Regions from separate parts of the Homo sapiens genome. Here regions 2, 3 and 4 are each linked to region 1. The links come from fine-mapping of genetic effects on plasma protein levels. A gene starts in region 1. Each other region holds a variant in brackets. All regions are shown on one strand. Distances are between the middles of the regions. Region 1 holds the start of CD101 (CD101 molecule). Region 2 overlaps CD101 (CD101 molecule). Region 3 overlaps CD101 (CD101 molecule). Region 4 overlaps CD101 (CD101 molecule).

What was found. PIP is the chance, under the fine-mapping model, that this variant and not a neighbour inherited with it causes the effect. Protein levels are from antibody-based Olink assays in UK Biobank. Linkage for the fine-mapping came from a reference panel and not from the study's own genotypes, which makes the PIPs less certain.
Region 2: its variant is fine-mapped to the plasma level of the CD101 protein (UK Biobank, PIP above 0.99).
Region 3: its variant is fine-mapped to the plasma level of the CD101 protein (UK Biobank, PIP above 0.99). The variant lies in the coding sequence of CD101. If it changes the protein, the assay may bind it differently, which can mimic a change of level.
Region 4: its variant is fine-mapped to the plasma level of the CD101 protein (UK Biobank, PIP above 0.99).

Annotation. Positions count from the first base shown.
Region 1 is chr1:116,999,034-117,004,183 of GRCh38, reverse strand. It overlaps CD101 (CD101 molecule), which reads right to left and starts at 2,424. Exons shown (of 10, transcript NM_001256106.3): 1 at 2,324-2,424. The coding sequence starts at 2,366.
Region 2 is chr1:117,016,678-117,021,827 of GRCh38, reverse strand. It overlaps CD101 (CD101 molecule), which reads right to left. Exons shown (of 10, transcript NM_001256106.3): 5 at 4,355-4,738; 6 at 3,268-3,672; 7 at 1-255. LOC124904386 (a long non-coding RNA gene) reads left to right here. Exons shown (of 2, transcript XR_007066499.1): 1 at 1-2,716; 2 at 3,394-3,735. Among named protein-coding and RNA genes, the nearest start is that of CD101, 17 kb to the right of the region's middle. RefSeq lists an enhancer at 2,997-4,196. The variant C/A (reference allele first, on the strand shown) is at 2,656.
Region 3 is chr1:117,030,820-117,035,967 of GRCh38, reverse strand. CD101 (CD101 molecule) reads right to left here. Exons shown (of 10, transcript NM_001256106.3): 9 at 1,834-2,108. The coding sequence ends at 1,867. CD101-AS1 (CD101 antisense RNA 1) reads left to right here. Exons shown (of 4, transcript NR_110786.1): 3 at 3,632-3,854. Among named protein-coding and RNA genes, the nearest start is that of CD101-AS1, 26 kb to the left of the region's middle. The variant T/A (reference allele first, on the strand shown) is at 2,068.
Region 4 is chr1:117,010,404-117,015,553 of GRCh38, reverse strand. It overlaps CD101 (CD101 molecule), which reads right to left. Exons shown (of 10, transcript NM_001256106.3): 3 at 3,588-4,004; 4 at 1,762-2,148. Among named protein-coding and RNA genes, the nearest start is that of CD101, 11 kb to the right of the region's middle. The variant A/G (reference allele first, on the strand shown) is at 2,702.

The DNA of each region.
Region 1 (5,150 bases):
CAGTAAGACAGACAATAGCCCTTCCCCCAAACCCTGCCATATTAATGGCCATTATTTGTAGGGCAGCTAGTTTGGGTGGGGGAAATAGATCAAGCAGACAAAGCTAACTGCTAAATCCGAGAACTCATTTACCCATGACATTAATCTCATATGGCACCATTTTCTATCAGGATTGTTCAGTCCTTATATTTACTAAAAAAAAATTGGGACAAAGTGTAAATTTGCTAACCAATGTAATTGATCAATAGATCGTTATTTAAATAATTTATTTCAATTCCCCTCTATATTTGTAAGGACAAACAGCAGACTTCTAAAGCTTTTTCCAGTAACTTCCTGATTTATGTATTCTTCACATAAAAACTGTGCTTCTACACAAAATTAGTGCTTCAGATGAGTCAGAATTTAGAAGAAGTAAATGTATAACCCAGTTTAGGTAATTGTTTAAATGGGTTAAGGAAAAGCTTCCAGCTTCCCCTTTTTGAGCCTTGATTACTACTTTCCTTCCCCCAGGGCTTCTAGCCTGCTTACCAAAAAAAGAGACAGAATTTGCAATTCTATGAATTATTGCACAATGTAAACCCAGTTTCCTCCTATATACATAGCAAACATAGAATTCAAATACACAAAGCACATACACTTGAGAATCACACTCAGACAACTTAACCAAACAACAAAAACACACCAGCCCCCAAAGGATCCCACCAGTGCACCTATCCATCAACACCCGCCAAGCCAGTCTGGCAGGCATCCGTCACCCAGCAAGTGGTCCCAGTAACTTCCCCTGCAGGCCCTAGGTCTGACTCTTAACCTCACACTATCATATGTACCTAGAGACATGAGCACAATTCAACTCAATCAATGTTTATTAAGCAACCTCTTTGTGCTGAATGCTGTATTCTTTTCTTTTAATTCTTCAGCCATAGTCCTGGTCACACCAAATGCAGCTTGGTTTAGTTCCCCAATCATCCCAGCCATTCGGGTCCCTGCACTGGCTCCATCCAGTCTCTCTAAAGCAAGAGTTTTGTTTGTTTGTTTGTTTTTTTAGATGGAATCTCACTCTGTCACCCAGGCTGGAGTGCAGTGGCTCAATCTTGGCTCACTGCAACCTCCACCTCCCAGGTTCAAGCGATTCTCCCACCTCAGCCTCCCAAGTAGCTAGGGCCACAGGTATGTGCCACCATGCCCAGCTATAAAGCAAGAGTTCTTAACTGGGTCCACATGTAGGATTAAAGGGTCCATAAACTAGGGTGAAAAATAATCTTACATCTTTATTTTCATTTTTGCCTCTAATGGAAATTTAGTATTTTCTTCAGTTATGTATGTAGACAACCACAGATATCTTCATATCACATTACAACTACTTAAGATATATTGAAATGTTATTTATACTCATCATTACTTTGAAGTTTGGTGGTTAAAAGACCTACCTGTAGATTTTGTTATGTAATGCATAAATAAGAAGCAAATAAATTACTGCATTATAATTTATTTAAAATATTTTGATACCTGTATTTCAATGTGACTGATTTCCTCTGTAATTCTATGCATTTTATTTTATGCATTTTAAACATTATTCTGAGATGGAGTCTATTCTCTTTACCAGATGTTAATGAAAACTGTAGCATAAAAAGTACCTGCTATCTGGTTTGAAACTATTCCATTACCTGCTCAACTCATCTGACTCTCCCTTCTACCTCCAAATTTTCTCTTCTTCCATCCTATTCAAACATAGATAAATGCCCCTAGATCAGGCAAGCCCCTCTGCATGGCCCTCAGTAGAGCCAAGTGAATCTTCCTGTTCATTTCTCAGTCTCTCAGTAGTCAATTTCCACTTCCACTCGCAGGTGAAATCTAGAACCTTCTTTTAGCATAGTCTAAAACTACTAAGTACTTTCATAACCTTTCTTTCCATCCAGTCATATCTGCAAGGCATAGTTATCCCATCAAGCCTTAATATCAGGCAAACCTTAAGGTCTCCTCTCAGTTTGGGACACAAAGCTTTTTTACTGTCTCTTGGGATGATCGGCCCAGGAAGATGAGTAAAGCCAGGGCCAAGCAAAACTGACAGATCTGGCAACACACACAAATGTTAAAACCAATGGAATCTTGTGCATGGGACTCAACCAAGCATTGTGACTCCCTGGAACTCAAGGATGTCTAGGTAAGCCAAGAACTGTCATTAGTAAGTCAAAAATTATTGCTAACATCAGAAATATATGGCATAGTTGTTCCTGTAGAGACCAAATTGTCCTGTTCCATCACTCAGCACCCTGAGTTGATGAACTCCTGTGACAAGAGAAACATAAAGGATTATGAAACTTACTCAGAAGGAGAAAGAAAGATGCCACATATGAGATGCCTGCCATTTGGGCCAGCACAGTCCTTTTTCGTCCCAATAGTGTCACTAACATTCAGAGGTTGAGTGACAAATGCTGTGCTCTCACTGCAAAGTAAAGAGGAAGCAAAAGTGTGGTTTTCAGCCCACTGAGAAATAGAGATGTCTTGTGAAAAGCAAAACTGGTTACATTATGTAGCTCTTTACTAATCACTCAAATTTGGGAGTAAAAAAGTTATCTTTGTGGTTAAGTAAACAGATATCGATAAAACTAAGAAAAGATGGGTCTCAACCTGGCTCACAGTATGTGTCATTTGGTAATGATGAGAGAATTTAGGTAAACTGAATAAATAAAAAAGGCACCAGCAATGTTGTCTTCTTGGCCCTTCCTTCTCCTCCTCTCTTGAGAGAGGAAATGACTGAGAAATGGGAGAAGGCCCCTGAAAAACATGAACTTGGGGCGACATGAGGTGGTGCTGAAGGTTACAGGCTCTAGAGTCAGGCTGCCTGGGTTTGCATGCAGATTCTAGTTTTAGTAACTGTGCAATCTTAGAAAACTTAATTAACTTTTCCTAACCCTCATTGCTAAAATGAGGATACTAATAGTAGGTACCCTGTAAGATTACTGTGAATGCCAAATGAGCTAATTTTTTAATTATTTTTTTATTTCTTTTTTTTTGTATTTTACTTTTTTTTATTATTATTATACTTTAAGTTCTAGGGTACATGTGCACAACGTGCAAATTTGTTACATATGTATACATGTGCCATGTTGGTGTGCTGCACCCATTAACTCGTCATTTACATTAGGTATATCTCCTAATGCTTTCCCTCCCCCTTCCCCCGACCCTATGACAGGCCCCGGTGTGTGATGTTCCCCTTCCTGTGTCCAAGTGTTCTCACTGTTCAATTCCCACCTATGAGTGAGAACATGCAGTGTTTGGTTTTTTGTTCTTGAGATAGTTTGCTGAGAATGATAGTTTCAAGCTAATTTATTTAAAGCACTTAGAACAATATCTGGTACATAGTAACTGCTCAATGAATATTAGCTACCATCATCACCATCATGAGACATTTAAGTAAATCTTCATCTGCCCTGTGAAACTGCCTTTGCAAAAATTGTAACAGTGAGAAAGTTATGACAGTGAAAGGGATCTGACCTCACCATCTCCATCTTGCTTCTAACTTCCAAGCTGCCCTTGTTAATTCCTGGTTGTAGGCCAAACTAACTTTGGGAGGAATTTAGCTTAGTTTAATTTTGAAACAAAGAGGATAACAGCCCTTTCTGGAAACAAACCCCCTTCTTGCCTGGGGAGCAGACTTCCCTAGTAAGACTAACAAATTAGCCACAACATTAGAAATTATGGTTTAGGAGTCATGCAGCCAGAGGCCACACAATTCCAACCTCCCCAACTGTTCCTAGGGATAACATCACTATTGTAAAACCTAAATTGGTGCTCAAGGTATTTTTCAGACCCTGCATCCTGATGCACCAGCTGACACCATCCAGGCTGGTGATCTGGTTCCACCAGTTCTTTGATCCCACTTAGGAACGGAAGACTGCAAGAACCCCCTTTGATCCCCTGTGATTTCATCTCCTACCTGACCAATCAGCACTCCCCACTCCCTGGCCTGCCAAATTATCCTTACTAACTCCAGTCTCTGAATTTCCGGGGAGACTGATTTGAGTAATAAAACTCTGGTTTCCCATTTAGCTGGTTCTGTGTGAATTAAACTCTTTCTCTATTGCAATTCTCCTGTCTTGATAAGTCTGTTCTATCTGGGCAGCAGGCAAGGAGAAACCTGTTGGGCAGTTACGCTAATGGGCAGTTACACCGATGTGAACCCAGGTATCAAGGATGGCAGAGGAGTATCTAAATGCAACAGTTGGCCCTGAACCTAGACTAATACTACGCTAGTGCTAGAGTTCTCAGGAAGCTTCCACTTAAATCAGATAATCACAATGCAATGTGTCAACAATCAGTGGGGCACCTATAGGGGGTGGGGAAAATTGGTAGGCAGGAGGGAAGGTCAAGATGGATTGGGCTGGGCCAGGTGAGTCAATGAGTCATCTAGAGAGGCAGGGGGCCAAGGTACAGTTGGGGAAAAACCGTGTGGCATGAATAGTAACACACAGGCTGTACTATCTTGTTGGAATGAAGTTTGAGGTTGTTGTGAAAGAAGGATCTATACAGGTAGGATGGGCAGATCTTAGTGGGCTTCGTGTGCCAAGCCTAAGAGCTTGGCTTTTATTAATACCTCAAAGAAGAGGGAAGCTATGAAGATTTTTAGTGGTAGTATAGCCTGGTTGGATTTTCCGTTTTTCCTTTTAAGTTGAATTCTGTATGTGTGCATTGCTAACAGGTTGAAAGGTGAAGAAGGGAGACAAGGCTAGAAGCAAGAAGGTCAGTTACAAGGTTTTTGTAGTTGTCTCTATGAGCAATAATAAGGGCCTGAAGTAGGGCATTTAAAATAAAGACAGAGGCCGGGCGCAGTGGCTCATGCCTGTAATCCCAGCACTTTAGGTGGCAGAAGCGGGCGGATCACGAGGTCAGGAGATCGAGACCATCCTGGCTAACATGGTGAAGCCCCGTCTCTACTAAAAATACAAAAAAATAGCTGGGTGTGGTGGTGGGCGCCTGTAGTCCCAGCTACTGGGGAGGCTGAGGCAAGAGAATGGCATGAAGCCAGGAGGCGGAGCTTGCAGTGAGCCAAGATCACGCCACTGCACTCCAGCCTGGGCGACAGGGCGAGACTCCATCTCAAAATAAATAAATAAATAAAGACAGAGGTGGGATAGATAAAATAATCAAAT
Region 2 (5,150 bases), 18 kb before region 1:
GGGAAACCTTCTCAGTATGAAATTTTTGTTTTCTCTGTGGGGTGTGAAACTCATCCCCAGTTTTTATAACATTGGTTTGGTCCATCTCCAGGATCTTTAGCCAAGAGGCATTAGTGGAAACAGGAGAAAAATACCAAATAATGGCTAACTGAAGGTTTCCATTGGACCGGGACAAGATGCTACATTCTATATCAGTGTTGGAGTTGATGGAGAGCTCTTGGACTTGACTCCTTGAATTCACTTTTAGCTTGCTCTCTAAATTTAAAAAAATGAAACAGTTACTTTGCTATGAAATAGAAAGTTAAGGTAGTAGAGACATTAGAGGTCAAGTATGACACTGCATCCTCCCGCCATCATATGGGTGAACTCCCTCTACAGTAGCCCCACTCACTGCTCATACAGCTTTTGAACAGCATCACTAGCTGACAAGGCAGCCCATTTCATCTCTGGACAGCTCTGCCCCTCCAGAATGCTTTCTGATATCAAGTTGAACTTTATCTCTTCATAACTTCCATCCACTAGTCCTAGTGCTACCTGTGCTTGGTAGGGGTGGTGTGGCAGAGGGAGTGTCACACAGACAAGCCCAGTATCTCTCTTCCACATGATACTGCTTCGGTATTTAAGCACAAGCATCTCTTCTGTCATATTTCATGTATCAGATTGGGAGAAAGTGGCCCTATTAATGCTGTGTTTGTGTGTTTACTATGCAGAGTACTTCTGGATTCACAATTTCCAAACTCTAGTTGTATCTGCCTTCAAACGTGGGTAAACAAAAGGAAGTTGTACATGAGTGATTAAAACTGTGTGTGTCTTTGCAGTCACTTAACTGTGGGAACATTGTATAGATATGGAGCCAACTAATCTTTGACCCCAGCAGCTTTTCTGCTTTGTCAGAAAGATGAGTGACAATCCTTGTTCCCAAATCTTCTTCTAGCATCTTGCTGACATCACCCACTCTACTTTTTTAACTGCTTATTGATGTTGCCCATAGGTCCCTTTACTCTTCCTTCAACAAATATTTATGAAGCACACACTATATTATGTGCCAGACAATTCCAGGCCCTGTGGATATCTTCCCTCAGTGGCTCACACTCTAGAGGGAGACAAGTGCAGGGACAGAGGCTTAGAGATGGTGCCAAGTGCCATTTGTAGACAAAGAGCCATTCTACCACAGCACAGTGATATTTGCCCTGATCACTGTCTTCCACATTTAGAATGTGCAGCTGAAATAACTCTTGAGAAACCTTTCTCAAGTGTGAGATTTTTGGTTGTTTTGTTTTGTTTGAGATGGAGTCTTGCTCTGTCGCCCAGGCTGGAGTGCAGTGGCATGATCTTGGCTCACTGCAACCTCCACTTCCTGTGCTCAAGCGATCCTTGTGCCTCAGCCTCCTGAGTAGCTGGGACTACAGGTGCACGCCACCATGCCTGGCTAATCTGTGCATTTTCAGTAGAGACGGGGTTTCACTATGTTGGCCAGGCTGGTCTCAAACTCCTGACTTCAGGTGATCTGCCCGCCTTGGCCTCCCAAAGTGTGGGATTACAGGTGTGAGCCACCACACCTGGCCTCAGTGTAAAATTTTTGTTCCTCATGTCCCTCATGTAAGACAGAGGTATATAGAAGTGCCTATCTGAGCACACAGCAGGGTCTCCTAGCCCAAATACAGGAGTGAGGGGAGACTTCCTGGAGGAGATAATTCTGAGCTGAGTCTTAAGGGTTTATAGGAATTATTCCGATGGAGAAGAGGTTAAGGATTGCCACACAAAAGATGCAACTAGATCAAAGACTTTGAGAGTGAGAGGGAACATGGACAATTGAGGAGCTGCCAGTAATTCAGTGTGGCTGAAGCTCAAATTCACGATGGAAAGTTGAAGGAGATGATGCTGGAAAGACACAAATGTACCAGATGATAAAGGACCTTGCATGTCACACTGTGGGAGTTTAGATACAAGGTGAACATAAGAGTTGTGATGACTCAGGTTTTCAACTTGGGTCACTGGTGAGGAGTGGGGACATAAGGGGCAATGCAGAAGAAAGAGCTTTGGATGATAATGGTGGGTTTATGTTTTGACATAATGAGTGCAGGCATGTCTTGGAGACAGCTGGATATACGAGTCTGGAGATCAGAAGAGAAATTGGTCAAGATAATGAATGTGGGAGTTGTGAACATACAGCTTGTATCCATGGGTAGGGACGAGTCCACTGCAGGAGAGCGTATAGAATGAAAAGAGAACAAAGCTAAGAATAGAATCCAGAGAAACTGTTTTCTTTAAAGAATAAATCAGTGGAGGAGAAAATGAAAATCTTGTGTCATGGTGCCAAGGAAAAAAGAAGTTTCAAGAAGACAGATTGGGGCAGCAATTGCAAATACCACAGAGAGGACAAATTAATTAAGCATGAATTCATGAACAAGGGGATCATTACTATTACCAAAAATGTTGCACAGCAGCAGAGAGAATAATGACAGTGACCACGTTTGAGCGTCATCTTGGTGTGTCAGGTACTCGGCATGTTATATATGTCACCATATTTAAATTGCACATTAACAATTTACAGATCAGGTAACTAAGGCTTCAGCAGATTAAGTGTCTCATCCAAAGCTGTTCTGCTATCCAGTGACTGTCAGATCTAAATGACTCCAACGTCTCTCCATCACT[C/A]TTCCTAAGAGAATGCAAACTATAAGAGAGAAGATACATGACACAGCAGAACTTTGCCTAGGTAGTATCTCACTTTTAACTCCTATGCTCTATTATCAGTTGATGAGATGGATTATATTTGATTGTAATAATAAATTCTCTGACTCTTATACATTAACACCTTACAAAGAAGTAGGTGGATGTATTCCAGTGGAATTTACCTTATCCCTACCACTAGCAGAGACACTGCAAATGTTTACTAACTGGTAAGGCCTGGACAGTGACTAATCCAAAACATTTCTTCTCCCCTCTAGCCAGGTCCTAGAGGCCCCCTGCTGTGCCACGTGGTACCCTTTAGTTGCTGGGTGGTGGGAACTTAGGGGAAAATGGGGAATGGGTAGAGAGCAGCAATTAGCCAGCATGGAAGGTATTTCAATGTTTTAACAACCAGTATGGCCAACCCATGCATACTAACTCAATGTTAACCTGGGTATCATTCATCATGTGGTGCTTACTTAGATAGAACAAATATGGGAGAAAGTATTTTATGTTTTATTGTTATAACTTACCCAAAATGGGAGGATTGCTATTTGTTTGTTTTTAAAACAGGGATTAATTTCAAGTCACACTTACCTGGTAAAGTGACGGCTATCCTCAGTGGGTGAGAGATGGCAGAAGCCCTCGGGGGGCGGTTGTTGTATAGGGAATTTCTGTCATAAACTTCTACTTCACACTGATACACTCCTGTCTCTTCCTCAGTGGCATCATGGACTAGGAGTTGTGAACGAAATAAAGACTGCGACACTTTCGTCTTCTTTTGGAACCGGGATAGGAAATTCCCCCATTCAATAGTGCCATTGTGGGTGATTCGAATAAGCTGGTGGAAGATGTGAGAGCTAGCTGGCTGGAACTGCCACGTCACAGTGAGTGGCACCTTGAGGTCAGAGTAACCGGCCCTCACGACACAGGACAGGTCAAAGGTGTTGGTTAACATCACTTGCGGCTGACGGCTCATCAGACTAACTTGTAAACTTGACTCTAGACAGAAAAATGAAACAGAATTTCTAATATATTTACCAGATTAAAATATAGCACTTTCAAGTTTTTCTAGTTGCCACCTCTTTGACTAGGACCATGCATTTGTACATTTGGAGTTTCCTATTTTATAGAGTAGAAATTGATTCCCAGTACAGTCTGTCCTGAACTGTGACCTCAATTTTGCAAAGTTGATCCTTTTCTAAGACTGTTCCCAGCAGCCACAACAAATAGGCAGTGTTTCTCCAATCTGCTACTTAGACAGCTGCTGCTGAGTGGGTGGAGCACTCCCCACCCTAGTCGTCTGGCCTCCTTCCCTTACCCCCATGCGTGGGTTCAGTATCAGAACCCTTTTGCACATGCTTCAATGGGCTCTGCAATCCCAGGGCCACAGCTGTCAAAAGCCAGAAGGTAAGAGGCTCAGCTATACTCGTCTATAAGCTGATCCATAGGATTTTGTTTTTAACCTTGAACAACAATTTACAAGTTGCACTCTAAAGATGATCTTTACAAAAATGAAGAATCTTTAAAGATTAATTGACAGAGAGGGTAGCCAGAGACTAGCTCTGTGTCCTAGGGTACACATACCATCACTGGGGGATTCAGGATAACACGCAATCCAGTTCCACTGCAGAATGAATTGAGTGATATACAGGTGCAGAAAAGGACTTCCTTTGACACTTACCCAGAGACTTTACAGTAACTGAAATCTTCTGAGTCCAGCTCAGATCTCTGGCCTGGTTCCGAGACTTCTCAGATACTCTGCACTCATATGTGCCACTGTCTGTGATGGCAGTGAAGGTGATCTCCAGCTGGAAGGTGGCCCAGTCCATTTTCTCCAGCCTTGTGTTGCCATGGTAACTGGGTACCCCATAGGAGGCACCCAGCTGCACAATGCCATCCTGCCCCATGCCAGCCACAAACTCGGGCTGTGTCTGGTCCCGTGGGATGTGCCACCAGCTCACAGACAGGGGACTTTCAGCTCCACCAGCCTTACAGAGAAAGGCGAGTGTCTCTCCTTCCCACACAACTTGCTGCTTGTTCTTGGTAGACATGACCACACTTCTTGCTGTGAGTTACAGATTATAGAAGAACAAAACTGTTTTAGGTAAATAAGAAATGTTCTAAAATACAGTGAAATTTCATTAATTAGGACTTGACTAGTTTGTGACAAGTCAAATTGGGCTGTTTCCTCTTGCACCACCCTCAGGCAAAAGATTTGCCAAACCTTAAATAGTGGAAACAAGATAGCAGAAAGAATATCGGAGGATGTATTCACCCTTAAACAATTTATTTATTTCTAAAGACTGGGTCTTGCTCTGTTGTGCAGGCTAGAACACAGCACTGTGATCTTAACTCACTGCAACCTCAAACTCCTTGGCTCAAGCAATTCTCCTGCCTCGTGCCTCAGTAGCTGGGACTACAGGCACGTGCCAACATGCTGGCTAATTTTTAAATTTTCTGTAGAGATACGGTCTCTC
Region 3 (5,148 bases), 32 kb before region 1:
CAGAGTCCATCCAAGATTCTCTGCCCAGGCTCACTTCTGCTCTCTTTCCCTTTGAATTAAAATACAGGTTTCTAAAAAATAGGGGCAGGGGGTCATCACACTTTCTAAGAGTCTTCTGCCGGGCGTGGTGGCTCACGCCTGTAATCCCAGCACTTTGGGAGGCCGAGGCGGGTGGATCATGAAGTCAGGAGATCGAGACCATCCTGGCTAACACGGTGAAACCCCGTCTCTACTAAAAATACAAAAAAAAATTAGCCAGGCATGGTGGCGGGTGCCTGTAGTCCCAGCTACTTGGGAGGCTGAGGCAGGAGGATGGCGTGAACCCGGGAGGCGGAGCTTGCAGTGAGCCCAGGTCACACCACTGCACTCCAGCCCGGGCGACAGAGCGAGACTTCATCTCAAAAAAAAAAAAAAAAAAGTCTTCATTTCAGCTTTGTTGTTTGTAAAAATATGCTCCCTTACCTGGATGACAAGAAACAAATGTGCTGACATGTTTAAGGAAAGATTTGGAGTATTTTAAATCAGGCTATGAAGGGACATGAGTTTAAGGAACTGGTAGGTCCATAGTAGGAGTGCTCATAGCCACCAATAATCCCCTTAGGAAGGAACTAATTATGTTTGGAGAGGACGTGTGTGCCTGATCAAATAATTAAAACTAAATTGCTCTCCTTGGAAATGCAAATTAACGAGTGTTAAAGCAACTCGGTTGGTCACATAGATAATAAATAGATGTGTTTTCTCAAGTCTTTAGGTGGCACTGATTGATTTCCAATTCTGGCTACAACAGGGCCTGAGCGGCTTTTGAAACAAAGATGAGGGGACTGTAGGCCCAGTGGGGACAGCTGTTGAAAGCTTTAAGCCATTACACCCCACCCCCACCGGCTGCTTTTTGCTACTGAGAATAGGAGACCTTGAGGAACCAGACTTGACCTACTGCTGCCCCAAACCCCAGCCCTGCAGGCGTATGAGGGAACGGTGGCACTGTCAACCCTGCTCCTCCAGACAATACCTTCCCTACCACCCAGTGCTGTCAGGTCAAAGAAAATAAGGCACTGGCTGAGCACCAGGAGCCAGATGGACCTTTTGGTGGGGATATGGAGGTGTAGGGGGAAGCAGGGGTACGAGGCCTTGGGGGGCTGACTGGAGTACTGTTACATGAGTTTTTACAAAGTTTTTGCTCAGCAATTACTTAATAAAAAGTCTTATCAAACAATAAACAAAAAGCCCCAAACTCAGGTTACAAATGTTTTATCATTTTGTCAAAGAACCTGTATTAGTTAAGCACCTTTACACAGAACTTGCTCTTGAGTGGGCCTTTGTAGGTGGGCTGGGAGAAGAAAATTGAATTTCTGCCTCGAAGGAAGTTACATTCTTGTTGTGGGGACAGATTTTAGGTAAACAAAGAGCATGTTACCAATTCCTTTTTCCTTGCTGGCATCAGGTCCTTTCCTACACCTCTCATCTGGAGGAAAATGATTACCTAGAGCAGGTGTGACAAGTGACATAAGAGGGAGAGAGAAGCCCCACCAGGGCATTGCTGTAGGATCTCATTTAGCCCTCCAGAGGCTGTGTGAGGGAGCCTCTTATCTCCTTGCAGCCCAGGGACCTGAACCTTCAAGAGATGTAGGGTAATGATGCTATCTTGTTCCAAGGGGGGATGCGAGAGGTGGATGAGGTAAGACACAAAGGAACACCTAACAGTGCGTAGAACCAATAAGCACTCAGTGAATGCTCCCTCTGATTCCTAGGTAACTTGCCCAAGGCCGCAGACATAGTTGAGGACAGAACCAGGATTCATTCACACCCTGGTTAGCCCAATTAAAAAGCCCCCACCTTTCCTTCCTGGCTGCAGGTGCCTCTTGGGATTCAGTTGCCTTCATCTTCCTCCTCGTCTTCCCTCCTATTTGTGGTCACACCTCCAGCCTCTTTCAAGTCCACCCAGAGAGCTTTTTCTTTCCGTGTGTTGGAACGCAGTGTTGACAACTTCCTGGCCTTCCAGTATAAGCAGAGGAGGGAGATGAGCAGAAGGAGGAGCAGGACGAAGGGACAGATGAACAGGAAATAGAG[T/A]AAAGGGGCCGAGGAGCAGATCCTGGAAGGAAGCGTGGGCTCTGCAACGAAGGGAGAAACAAGAGAGTAATTCATCTCCAACTTATTTGTACTAGTCAATTACAAACACTCCTGGGATTTATTGTTATAGGCAAGTATATGTAAAAATAATGGGGCCAAATAGCAGTGGGCCCCTGAAATCATGAGGAGCACAGGACAGAGCACTGGGGGAAGAGAGCTCCTGGAACAGGCTCTTCTAATGCAACAGCCCCTTGCCCTGCGATTTCCAACCACTGGAGGTTCCAATGACCTACTTAAAACTAACAGCCAAAATGAAAAACAAAACAAAAAAGAAAACCTCTCCTTTAATCTTCTTTCTTCAGAAAAGATATCTATAATTCAACCCTCGTTCTCAACAGTGTTGCCAGTCCTGAATTTTTAACTGAGTTATTCCCACTGCTGCTCCTCCAACACACAGGCACACACTCTTTCTCACACACACATACACACACACTCTGCCCTGCACTCTGCACTGTCCTTATAAAACAATCACACCCACAATAAGAAGCCCCTACCCCCGCTGACCCAAGCCTGGCCCTCCCTGTGGGTCTCCTCCTTCCCCGGCCCCCTCCCTCCCACTCCTTTCCTGTGTTGCTCTGGCTGTGGCCACCACCTGACATGCTCCATGCATCTGAGCCTCTAGGTCCTTCTGGCCTAGCTCCATCACACTTCCTACTCTCTCAGCTCTTCCTACCTTGCTGCAGGCACAGTTCTTCTCTTCCATCCCGTTCTCACTCAGCCCTTTGTTTAGGCCTCTTTAATTCCCTTTTACTCGTCTCCTTTGTTCACTATAGTTACTTGAGTATGTCTGATAGTGCCATTTGTTTCTATATCCCCTACAGTGCCTAGCACATGTGCTCAGTAACTTTTGCTGATCTGAATTAAATTGGATTGACTGCAACCACATGGGCAAAAGATACTATATAAAGGCATGCTGAAGCATATGATCATCCCGCAGCTGCAGTCCGCCGGGAAGCACTATCAATCAGCAGATACACACGCAGAGCACGCACAAGCAGCCCCAAAGTGGCTCCTGGCCACACGGCCAGGAAAGCAAAGGCCCAGAGGACTGCAAACACCACAGGTTTCAGGAAACAGTCTATTGAAGCAGAAAGACACATGCTTAAAGAGACCAATTACTAAATGTAGTCTTCCAATTACATTTATTTATGACATGATATCTGAAATCAGGGCTGTTCTGAAATATTCAATGCTAACTGTAGCTGTGCTTTTACTGGAAAATTGTAATGACATAAGCAATTTCTTCTTCAAAGGTTAAGCTACAGGATTCATGGGATTATGGATGCTTAGAGATGAAAGAGGTTTAGAGGTCATTTTGACCAACCTCCTGCTGCAAGAATTCCATTTTTGGCATTGCCGACGAATCCTACATGTTAAAGAACATCTCTTTGATGATAGTCAAGAAAGAATCTAGACATTCGCTCACCTCCTGCACTGTGAGCTCCTTGAGGGTAGGGCCTGTGTCTTGTGTGTCTTTTTATCTTCCTCAACTCTTTGTTCACAGGGTCTCAATGGAGCCTGATGAATGAATCAATTGCATGAGTACATTCCACACATGGGAACCCAGGGATGGCTGCCATCATGCTATACAAAGTACAGATCATCACTGAACATTAGGCTGGCAGCTCTGAATGGGGCTGGCAAAGAGCAGCAGAGGTTCATGGCCTGGATTTTCTCTGATCTCATTTGTATCCTTCATCCTAAATTTAGTTTTGTTTTTTGAAATGGTGAGCAATGATAAAGTTAGGTTTTGAATTCTTTACCATCCCTCTGCTCCACATCCTATCTGACCCCTCTTCCAATGACCCTGCTTGACTACAGTTATTCTCCCCCGGTCTTATCTGAGTACATTTGAAGGCCCGTGGCTAGAAGGAAGCATAGACTGCAATGATGCAAGTGAATGGAGCCATGGAGTCCAGGTATTATAAGCACTGGCTGTGAGCATTTGTGCAGAGTAGTGAATGAGCACCTACTGTGTTTCAAAGAGAGCTGAGTTCAAATCCTCAATCTTCAATGTGCTGTTATTGACATTGGATAAGTTACTTATCCTCTCTTAATCATTAGTTTCCTCATCAACCAAATAGGGATAACAATTTCTAGAGTTGTGATGAGATAATGTATAATAAAGCATCTAACGAAGTGCCTAAAGCATTTGTGGAGTCAGCAAGCAATAAATATTAGCTAGAATGCTACTGAGAAAGCTAAGAAAATCACAGGAAACCTTCTCCCAAGAGAACAGACAGAGAACAGGGCTGGAGCCTACAGATATCTCTCCCACAGGGACCCCAGGCTTGGCCATCTTCCTCCACAGGCTCTCTCTCCCTTACATCTCTAGTCCCCCTGTCCTCAGACCTGGGTGACATTCAGCAAAGACTGAAATGATTACTTAGGAGGCCCTGGCTTCCTTTTCTACTCATGGGAGGCAGAGAATTGTGAGGTTAGAGTCCACAGCACCAGGTATTACAGTTGCTAGAATGGTGGGGTAATGATGGCGAGATGGGGCCACTACACAGGAGGTGGAAATAAATCTGCTACTCTGCTTTTCAGCATGAAGGAACAGCCAGAGGGCTTGGCTATCTTGGTGGGGAAGAGGCTGCCCAGCTTAGTGCAATCTGCCATCAAAGGATGGCAAGGTGTGCCCCTTACCATGCTGAAGTGGCCAACAGCTAGCAACTGTTAGTGCCTGTGCTGTTAAATCACCTCTCCTGGGAGGCCAGTGTTTGCTCTGCATCCCACAGTCACCATTTCCCACCATCTGCCTCTCACCCATATCTGGATTAGAATTAGTGACATTCAAACCATTAAGGTTTGGCATTTTGATCAATCTAAGTAAGTGCCCAATGCTCAAAGTACAAGGTCTTCAAAACAAAGCCAAAAATGTAATGAGAGCACTTCATCATGAGGCTTAGTTTAGAACGTGCTTCCACCCACAGCCAAGCACAGCAAAAGGAGCACTCCTTTTTGATATTTCCTCAGAGACACTGACTTCAGAAGAAAAGAGGTGTGAGATAAAGAGGGGGC
Region 4 (5,150 bases), 11 kb before region 1:
GCATACATATACATAAGTAACAAAGAGAGAATGAGGGTTAATGTCCATAAATATGTTTTTAAAAAGAGCAAATCTGCTTTCAAATTTAGTTTTTTTCAAGTTAAAAATAGACTCATAACTGAAGTTTCAAAATTGGAGGGGAAATTCACCACTTTAACATAACCATGATGATTAGTTTAAACTAATGATTTTTTTTTTAAATGATGTTTCCTTAGTTCATTGTGGCCATTACTGCCTTTTGGTAAGAAGTAATAAACTTATGAAATGTGTGCAAGTTACACATTCACAATGGTAATGAGTGATTAAAATATTCATAAATGATAAAATGTTGCTAATACTTCAAGTAACGTTTGACTTTCAAAACAGAATGCTAAACAGGATCCTTAATAAATTTGCTAATAACTTTTTCTGTGTCTACATAGTAAGCCCAGTGTAGACTCCAGCCTATACAAAGAACTATTTTTAGTTTTAGAAGATGACCCTATTGATAGGATTATCAGCTGTGTACCCTGAAGTTCCCCTTCAGGTGAAATTCCCACATACCAGGTTTACAAAAGCCTGCAGATATGTTCCAGAGAAGGCTGAGATGCATAAAGCAGAAACTTATCTCTGCATAAATATGTGAACTCACCTATATTGTTTTTCCTTAATTCTAGAAAGTCAGACCAAATGTTTAGTGTGAAAACGAACACCAACACACTTCCTGGCCTGCCACTCAAGGCCAAATCGGTGCATCTTCATTCCTAGTAAATGGCATATTGGAGAACATGAAAGGAAAATTTATCTATCTTTGGAGATGTCTCCAATGAGCCAGTGCAACAAGGACACCTTTATTTTTAGCTCAGTTTTTAAAAATTTAAAACATTAAAAAAAATTTTTTTTGGGCAATTAATCTTTCTGGACTTTGAATTTAAACCCAGCCTAGTGAATCCTTATATTAGTTGCAGATATGTCTGTTTTTCTTCACAAAAGGCACTGATTATTCAAACATGTTTAAGGTCACCCAACCTTCATAAAGTAAAGGTGAGCTGAGTGGCTTCCTCAGTTCCGTGCATGCAGACATTCAGAACCATTTGGACCGGCGTCTCACCACATCACAGCAAAATGCAGAGGATGGAGTCTGCCCACTATCAATTACCTCTTCATTTCTTACTGTGAGTCAGAATTATGACTAAGTACTATTTCCCACACCAGGTCAACATAGTAGGAGACTAACAGAAGGCAACTGAAAAATGCCGGCAGGGTCTCAAGGTAGGATAACACGGGTGTTCATTCCTCAGGAAGGAGGACAAAGTGTAGCTTTTTACTCTTAACCTATTCATATCACACACACACACACACACACACACACACACACACACACACACAAAGGCAGAGGGCTTCATTAATACACATGTTCTCTGCTTTAAGAAATATCTAATACATAAAAATTAGAACAAAAAATAAATAGACTCTAAGATAGCAAGAAGGAACTTAAAGACCATCTAGTTGTGTGCCATCATTTTACAGATGAAGGAGCTGAGACTTAGAGACGTAAAGTGGTGTGTTCATGGTCACAGACTACTTAATGACTCAGGAATAGGACTCGGGTCTTCAGCTAGTTTGGGTGCCTTCCTTTACTCCACTCCACTCCACCTCCAATGTGATCTGATTGAAACCTGCTCTTCATGAAGATCCCCATTGTATCCACGAAGGGGTCTTCCACTGACAAGGGGGCATCTGAAAGCAGCCCAATGCATGCCTGGCCTTGACTTTACGTACCTGCTGGCTTCCTCAGGTGCACGTGGCTGTCTGGTGACTGCTTTCTCTGAAGCACCTGCCAGGAACCTGTGCGTGTTTTCATGACCTCTGCTACCACACATCTGTAGGCGCCTTCATCCTCTGGGCCCAGAGAGAAGATCTTGAGAGAGAAAGCCTTGGGGCCTAACTTTGAAACCTGGAGCTCTCCTTGACTTGCTCTCTCTTTGTAGTCATTCTTCAGGCCCAGGACTCCACCAGCATCAATGTGAGCAATTTCAGTCCCATTGAAGAACCAAATGCCTTGAAGCTGTGGGTCACGGCCACTGCTTACAACCAGGCAAACCAGTTCTAAGGGTTTCCCTTCAGCAAACAAGCTGTCAGCTGTAATGTTGACTTGAAAATCTTTCACTGGGAAACAAAAGCAAGGCAGGTATTTAGAGAGCCCACAGCCTCTGTCCTTTCAGTACCAGAGAGAGATGACACCCTCTGTAAGGATGTCACAGGGATCACATTTTATGTGGGAGTTCAATTCTATAGCGGTAGGTAAACCCAAAAAAAACAAAATCCTTAGAGTAAAAAACGCTCATGACTCTTCCTTAAATCACCCAGAAAGGACAGTACACATGGTTTTCTGAATGCACTCTTAGTAAGCAAGATGTATGCACAAATGTATGACACATATAGTAATGTATGCTTTTTAAATTAAAAAATAAAATATTGTATACTGAATTAAATATATATATTAAATATTTTACACTAAATTGCTGTAAATTGTGATTTCTTACTCTCTTTTTTGGCTAAGAATATCCAGCAGAATTTTCTGAAGTTAAAAAGCACATGTGATATCGCTCCATAGGACTCATGAGTATAACTTGGATACTTGAGGCCAACAGGACAATTTTTAGTGGAACACAATAATACTGTTTTTAATAAAGAAAAAACTTTAATGATCCACTATTGG[A/G]TCATTGCTTTTAGCAATGCATATACAGTATATGGTTTAGCAACCACTTCCTGTTGGACAAAAGCCTATAGAGACCAGGAATCACAGACAAGGCCTTTATACTTGCTTTGACAAAAATGCCAAAAGATTATGAAAAGTAACAGCAGGCTGGGTGCGGTGGCTCACGCCTGAAATCCCAGCCCTTTGGGAGGCCAAGGCAGGAGGATTGCTTGAGCCCCGGAGTTCAAGGCCAGCCTGGGGAACATAGCAAGATCCTGTCCTTAAAAAAATTTAAAAATTAAAAAAATAATAAAAAAGCAAAGTCACTGCATTCCAAGTTGGGAAAGGGGGCAGGTGGAAGGAAACCCCAGCACTGACGAAGACAAGGCTTCATGTTGGAAACTGGAGCTACTTTGAGGCCCAGCTGTCTGTGCTGAGTGGGCTTTGGAGAGAGACAGGCCTCCCTTTGAATGCCAGCCCCACTCTCACCAGCTGGGTGGGCTTAGGCAGCGCATCTAGCATGTCTGAAGTTCAGAGTCCTCATTTTTAAAATGGAGACTCAACTACTTGCCTCATAGGGTGGTGGTTACGACTAAATTAGATAATGTAGATAATGTGTGAACAGAGACTGGCAAAAATGGTAACAAAACTACTTCCATGACTGGCTTGTGGAATCGATCTAGCCACTCAGTAGACCTTATCCCATAAAGAATCCGTGGGCAGAGCCAGAACTGAATGTGCTCCCTCTTAGTTATGCTTCTCAGATGACAAAAATACAAAATTAAATCAAACTTTCTAGCCAATTTTTTAGAGCCAACAAAAGATTAGAACAAAAATTAAAACATACCTCATAAATACCCACTACCTAATACTAGTGTATTAATGAATTTCGTAGGAAGATAATTACCTGCTGGCTGGATCCTCAGAGTGGTTTGATCGGTCTGCTTTTTGGTGATGAACATCCAAGTTTCATCTGGATCCTGAATCCATTCCGTTGCCTCACAGAACAGCTGACCCTGATCTGAGGACTGGAGCCTCTCTATGGACAGCCTGAATGTAGTGGGTCCCAGTTTGTTGAGCTGTACGTCACTGGCTGCAAACCGCTCTGTATACAAGGGCCCAGGGACCAATATAAAATCTTTGGAGAGAGAAATAATCTCAGTGGCTTGGCTTCCTCCTCCATCCTGTGTTAGGTACCAGGTGACAGAGAGGTGAGTATGTTGGGCTGTGGCTTTGGATGCCTCACAGGTGAGGGCTAATGGCTCACCTTCCTCCTTACCGAGAGTCTGAGAACTCATGGTGGCAGAGAGGGTATCTGGAATAACTGGAAACAAAGGAATGATAATAATGTGACTGGCCCAGTGCTTGTCCAGTGGGCCTCCTTAGATGGCGCCCTGAGCTACCCTATGTAAAGCACACAGACTTTGAGTTGGTTTTCCACTTGCCATATGCTTTCCTATCCATATGCTTTCTCTATTGCCATTGGGAACATTGGCATCTAGGTACAGTCTACGGAACTGGGCAAAGTAAATGCCTCATCAATGTGTTGACCCTCACTTTGCTTTATTAACATAGGCTATAACCAATTTAGCTACTCAGACACAAAGCATGTATTTAAAGGGAGAAAGCACTGGGACAGAGAAACCTTAGATTCTGATCCTAAATCCATCCCTACTACGTGGACTTGGGCATGTCACTTCACCTCCCTGGGCCTTAACCTGCTCCTCTATAAGGCTGTGTAATAATCTAATAATGTAATAATGGCTGTTAAAATGTATCATTTAGAGCCCAAATGCAATCTTTACTAAAGTTTTGGTAACCATCTTACTACCCTACCATTCTTGTTTTCCTAAAATGAAATCACACAGCCTAAGCTTATATGAAAGCAACACTTAGATTTAATCAATGAATGTGACTGAGCGTCTACTCGGTGCTAGCCACTGAGTAGAAGCTGAGGATGTGGTGGGAAAGAGGCATACAAATAGCCAATTACCATGTAACTGGATACATGCTGAGAGCAGTGGTATGAACAATCTAAAGGAAACAAAAGTGGGAATTCTGCCCAAGCAGTCAAGATGAGTTCCACAGAAGAGGTAATATCTAAACTGGGTCCTGAAGTATATGTAGGAGTTTGTTAAGCTGAAAAGGGGGTGATAGATATTCCAGACAAAGGGACAAAGTGACAATTGCAAGGACTATCACCCTTTCCCAATGTGTAAATATGCTAGAGAATGGTAGTTTGAGAATTATCATTTCTAAGTTAATGACTTATCACCTATGGTACCAGCTTTCTTGTCAAATTACTGTTCTGCCTGCAAGCAGAGACAACACAGGGAGAACTCTCACAGCTTTGTTGAATGCTGTTGCTACTAGCAACCTATGGAGAGCTGCGGACAAGGCCTTGGGAAAACCACACACCATCTAAATATTTATGGCAAAGATAATTGAGAAAAAGAAACAGATAATTTTA